Regions from separate parts of the Homo sapiens genome. Here region 2 is linked to region 1. The links come from fine-mapping of genetic effects on gene expression. A gene starts in region 1. The other region holds a variant in brackets. All regions are shown on one strand. Distances are between the middles of the regions. Region 1 holds the start of SPATA22 (spermatogenesis associated 22). Region 2 overlaps TRPV3 (transient receptor potential cation channel subfamily V member 3).

What was found. PIP is the estimated chance that this variant, and not a neighbour inherited with it, causes the effect.
Region 2: its variant is fine-mapped to the expression of SPATA22 in skeletal muscle (GTEx, PIP above 0.99). The same link has a PIP of 0.9 or more in esophagus muscle, gastroesophageal junction, spinal cord, subcutaneous fat and tibial nerve.

Annotation. Positions count from the first base shown.
Region 1 is chr17:3,470,269-3,473,178 of GRCh38, forward strand. SPATA22 (spermatogenesis associated 22) reads right to left here and starts at 1,551. Exons shown (of 9, transcript NM_001170698.2): 1 at 1,414-1,551.
Region 2 is chr17:3,511,414-3,514,323 of GRCh38, forward strand. It overlaps TRPV3 (transient receptor potential cation channel subfamily V member 3), which reads right to left. Exons shown (of 18, transcript NM_145068.4): 18 at 1-2,598. The coding sequence ends at 2,504. It also overlaps a transcript of SPATA22 not described here. Among named protein-coding and RNA genes, the nearest start is that of ASPA, 37 kb to the left of the region's middle. The variant A/C (reference allele first, on the strand shown) is at 1,602.

The DNA.
Region 1 (2,910 bases):
TTCATCCCCAATCTAATACAACGAACACTTGCCCACTGCAAGAAGAGGCAAGATACAAACCCAAACCAGGTAACTTCTGTTCCAAATTCACAACCCAATGAGACAGACAGACCGACACATACACAACTAAGCAATAATGCAAGTCAGGCCGAGGTGTTAACTTTCAAATATCGTTTGTAAAAATAAAACTTGGGAAACAGGCCGGGTGCAGTGGCTCACGCCTGTAATCCCAGCACTTTGGGAGGCCGAGACGGGCGGATCACGAGATCAGGAGATCAAGACCATCCTGGCTAACAGAGGGAAACCCCGTCTCTACTAAAAAATACAAAAAAATTAGCCGGGCGTGGTGGCAGGCACCTGTGGTCCCAGCTACTCGTGAGGCTGAGGCAGGAGAATGGCATGAACTCGGGAGGCGGAGGTTGCAGTGAGCGGAGATCGTGCCGCTGCACTCCAGCCTGGGCGACAGAGCGAGACTCCGTCTCAAAAAAAAAAGAAAAAAAAACAACTTGGGAAACACGAGGTCAGGTGCTGCCTCTGTTTTGTTTCCACATCTTAGGCTTGAAGCTGGGTAGAAGAGATGGACCCTTTAGAAAATATTCCTGGTGGCCAGGTGCAGTGGCTCATGCCTGTGATCCCAGCACTTCGGGAGGCCAAGGCAAGTGGGTCACCTGAGGTCGGGAGTTCAAGACCAGCCTGACCAACAACGTGAAACCCCGTCTCTACTAAAAATACAAAAATTAGCCGGGCATGGTGGTGCGTGCCTGTAATCCCAGCTACCCTGGAGGCTGAGACAGGAGAATCACTTGAACCCGGGAGGCGGAGGTTGCAGTGAGCCGAGATCACGCCACTGCACTCCAGCCTGGGCGACAGAGCGAGACTCTAGGGAAAAAATGGAGAGAGGGAGGAAGGGAGGGAGGGAAGGGAAGGAAGGAAGGAAGGGAAAGGAAAGGAAAGGAAAATATTCTTGGCGCCATCCTAGGAGCCACAACAGGGATTCTGCCACTTTCTCCACCGGCGCAACTCACATCCTATATTTAGAGGGGCTTACGAGGGCTATTATGTTTCTCAGGATCAAACAAACAGAATAAACAACAACAAAATTTTTAAGTGTAACATTCCACCCGCGGGACCATTGATCCTGAGGGCGGGGACCCTCATTTACCCCCAATCCCAGCTCCCAAATGGACCTAAGTGGCGTTAGTAATGGGGTTGGTGGCATTGGTGTGCAAAAAGTGTGCTCAATCTGCACGCACACACACACACACCACCCACAAAAACCACGGCCTCAAATGGCGGCCTGTTTTGGCTCCTGACCGCGGTGGGAGAGAAGAGGCTCCAGTCCGAGTTGAGACGCTCTTCCAAAGGCCTCTCCTGACCCGCCCACGGAGTGGGGGCAGTTTGGTATCAACGCACAGTCTTTCCCTTCTAGGCCCTCCTGCCAACACGACACACAACTTTCGCCCTCAGTTTCCCTCGCCTCCGTCAACCGTCGTCCAGGCGGCCCCGTCAGCAACCGCCGCCCTTCCCGCCCGCGAAGAAAGCGCGGGAATCAGGCTGTTCGCAGGCGCCGTGGACCGCGCAGGCGCAGTGGCCGCCACCTCGGCGCGATGGCATCTTCGCTGCCTGCCTGGCCGCCCTTGGCCGGGCGCGATGACGTTAACGCTCTTCCTTGGCGTTCTCACACTGTGGACCCAGGGATGGCTCCAGCTCCTTAGAGTTTTGCCCAGAGAGGAAAGGAGACTGTCCTGTGACTGGAGAGACAGAGGCAGATCTCCTGCCCAACCGGCCTCAGCCCCACCATCGTCTAAAAAGTGTGCCCCACTTCCCCTCACCCCCTGGCCCTTAGGGTCCAGACATCCGTTTGTTAGATGCTGGTGGCCACCCAGAGTGTGCCCAGAGATTGACTCGAAGGCCACCCGAGGTGTCTGGCTCAATTTCTGGGTCGGATCAGGGTCAGGGAATCTGAGTCCCCGGGAGGCTGGGGACAGAGCTGAAGCCCAGGTTCAGATGGCGGCCATGGAAGGCGGAGAGCCGTCAGCGAGGCAGCGCCGGGGCTGCGGGAGCTTGCGGGAGGGAAGCGCCCGTGAGCCGCAGAGACGCTCTGCAGGGGAAGCCGCGTGGTGTGCGACCCTGGGCGTTGAGCTCCAGGCTTCCTGGCAAAGAGGACTGTGGATTCCTGGCCCTGTGACCTTGGGCAAGTTACTTACTGAACACCCTCTGGACCTACCAGTAAAAGAACAATAACAACAATCGCCCTAAAAATACTAGAAGATGAAATAGACAATCCTGGCACACAGTAAATGCCCAGTAACTGTTAGCCCTTATTTAATTTGAGTAACAGTAGCTGCCATTTATCCGGAACTTACTATGGGCCAGGTAGTGGATTCTAGAGCTGTCTGAGTTCAAAGCCCATGTTTTGTTGTTACCGTATCTTCTAACCATTTGAAGACTGGGATAGGGAAGGGCTTAGAGATGAAAGGAAGATTGTTAGTAAAGGCCTAGGCCTATAAGACCACAGACATTTTAGTAGTTGCTTTAAAACTATCTCAAGTAAAGAAGAGTGTTAGAAAATAATATTAGATGTAGACTGAGACCAGATAATAGCAGACCTTGAATGCCAGAGTAAGGAACAGCTTTCAAGGAATAGGGCCATCTTTTATTTTGGGAAGAAGAAGACTTGAACAATAAAAATAAAACTTGTTATTTATCATGGTTCCAGAGAGGAGTTACCCAAAACATGAATAGAAGCTTCAGGGAAGCAGATTTTGACTTGATATCTACATACGGATGTGCATACATTTACAACACACACCCACCCACCCCAAAAATAGATTTTTCATTAAAAAAAAAAAAAAAAAACCACCTTAAGCCGATTACTTCTGTAGGGACTGCAGACATGAGCAATATAGA
Region 2 (2,910 bases), 41 kb after region 1:
CAGCTCTGATATGACCTTCCTGCATGACTTTGCCCAAGTACACATTCCTCTCGGAGCATTAGCCTCTGGGCGTAAAATGAAGGAAGTGCTCCTTTTCACTCTGATGCTTCTTGACTTATGGCTTCCCTTGGTAAACCTACCTAGGCTCAGACGTTTTGGCTGAAAGCCTTTTGGGGTGGACACTGTTGGGAAGAATATCCAATACAGAAAATGGTCTTGCCAACAAATTCCATCCAGACCCACAGACAGCAGATCACCAAAACATGTGAGATGACAAACATCCCTATGGCTCTCCATTCCCCACTTGGACAAAAGCTGGCAGGTTAGGCAAATAGAAATCAATAATTGGCTTTATCCATTAACATCCGAGTCAAAGCAACTCTGGATACGGCTTTATCCATAACAGATACGGCTTTATCCATTAATGGATATGACTTTCTCCATTAATATCTGAGTCAAAGCAATTCTGGAATTCCCAGCTCCATAGTGTGGAGCTTGGCATCATGAATCCAAACCACTTCCTTTCAGACCAAGATGTCTGTTCAGGCTTAATGCGGGTAGCTAACTCCAGATGTGGAATGCTGATTTGTACAATCTCCAGGCTAAAAGGGACCTTAAACTTCTTCCAATGACCATTTTCAACAACATTCCTCATTAAGTGCGCAACCAGCTTCTGCTTAAACATCTCCAACATCTGGAGCAGTTGCTGGATTCTGTTGAGCCAAAATCTTTCTCAATTTCCTAATTCTGCCCATTCTGAAACACATCTGCTCCTCCTGCCTCTAGGACAGTTCTCCTCAAATCTTCTCTTCTCCAGAGGCCCATGCCCAGCCCCGACCACTGTGGCTTAGAGCACGCGATTACTCCCTGGGTCAGCTGGGAGGGCAGGGGCTGCTGTGGATTGTGAAGCCTCACACACCCCAGCCCACCTCTCCCCAATCGGCCCCATCAGGGGCACAAAGTCTCTATCTGTCCAGCTAGTCTGGCACACAGAGTGGCCCAGGGCAGAGAAACTGGCCCAGAGTGCACTGCTAGGCCCCGACTCTTCAGTTTGCCTCAAGCCAGATGAACTTATCTATCGCCATGTTATCTGAAGGCCAAATTTCTATTTCTGCCATTTAAGATTAACATTTATGGTTACTATTTTTATAATTCCACCTCGAACATTTTTACATGAATCCTTTCACCAGATAACGGCGGCAGAGTGGATTTTCTGGTGGTTTCGGCCCCAGTCACCTGGAAAATCCTTCCGTCTCCACTTCACCTCTGCCCCCCAGACTGACTCCGTGTCATTTCAGAAAGAGAACATCAGAGGACGAGGACCTAAAAATAAGCTCAAAGTCTTGGCAAATGCTTTTCTCTCACAAGCTTCCCCTTCAGCTTCAAAATTCACAGTTAAAATTAAAAAAAAAATACTTCGTACCAAAGCAGTTGAGGCATTTTGTTAAATTCCCCCACTGAGACATACTGAGGTATGCGACTAACTGCTGAGTTCCAAGATGATATCGATCGAGCAGCTGCTATTTCTGCTTCAGCGAAAGCCACGATCCCAGCACACAGGCACGCGCTACTGTGAGGTCAGGACGAGGAAAAGAGCCAGG[A/C]CCTTTCACCCAGATCGCGGCGGCCCAGCAGGACTTGCCCGGAGTGTCTCATGCAGACTTTTGTGTGTGTGAAGAAAAGCTTTTTGTCTTGCTCTGGGCACCCTGAGGCCAAATATATAATACTTACATCCAGCCCCAAAGCCCCCAGTCTGTCTCCACTTTTAAAATCACAAACTTCATTGTAGTAATTTTCATTCTCAACTGAAATGTCTTTTCCGTATTGCAAGTTAAAACCCTGTGTTAATTCTGCTACTAAAAACATCTCTCAGCTTGAGACAGTTTGAACCTTGGGGTGTCAGGGGACGTTCACTCCAAGGATGGTCTCCTTTTCCCCGAAGGGTTCCGGAAGGGTGTTTCCAGAGCGCATTCCCCTCCTCCCCCAGGATATCCAGCTTACCTCCGTCCCCCGCACACTCTGGGATGGGATCACGGGTCTCCCACAAATTCAGGCAACCCAGTCACAGCAGAAGAGATGGTACAATGTGTGGGCTGGGGTTGGGGCTGACGGGGGAAGCTGGCAGGAGGAAAGACTCCTCTCCCTGCTCCTCAAGACTGCTGCCCCTTTCCCGCCATCCATCTCTCCCAGCCAAGCCGACCTGCAATTGGTAAAACCAGAGGCTTCACCCGGGACTTCAGGAGGCTCCCAGGCTCCAGACTGCTGCTGGCTGTAGGTTTACACCAGCTGTTTGCCAAGTAACAAAATCCAGGATGTTTCCCACTCAGACAAATTGACAACTGCCCCTCAGTTCAGACACCCACTGAGCACTGAGCACGAGGGTGCACTCTGCTTCTAGGCCAGCAGAGCCGGACTCCACCATCCCTCAAAGCCTCTCTGCACAGAGTCGGTGACTCCGCCTGCAGCGCCAGACAGCGCACGCGCACACCAGCTCTGGGTTCCGCTTCTACACCGAGGTTTCCGGGAATTCCTCGACTTCTTCAAATGCATTGAGAGTGGTTTTGCTGTTGTTCCTGGAAGAATCTTGGATTTTGTTGAAATCTGCTTTTTAAAAAAATATATATTTTAGAAATATATCACTCTGCATAGTGTGTTTCTTTTTTCTTTTTCTTTTTTTTCTTTTTTGAGATGGAGTTTCCCTCTTGTCACCCAGGCTGCAGTGCAGTGGTGTGATCTCAGCTCACTGCAACCTCCACCTCCCAGGTTCAAGCAATTCTCCTGACTCAGCCTCTCGAGTAGCTGGGATTATAGGCACCTGCCACCACGTTCGGCTAATTTTTGTATCTTTAGTAGAGACAAGGTGTCACCATGTTGGCCAGGCTGGTCTCAAACTCCTGACCTCAGGTGATTCAC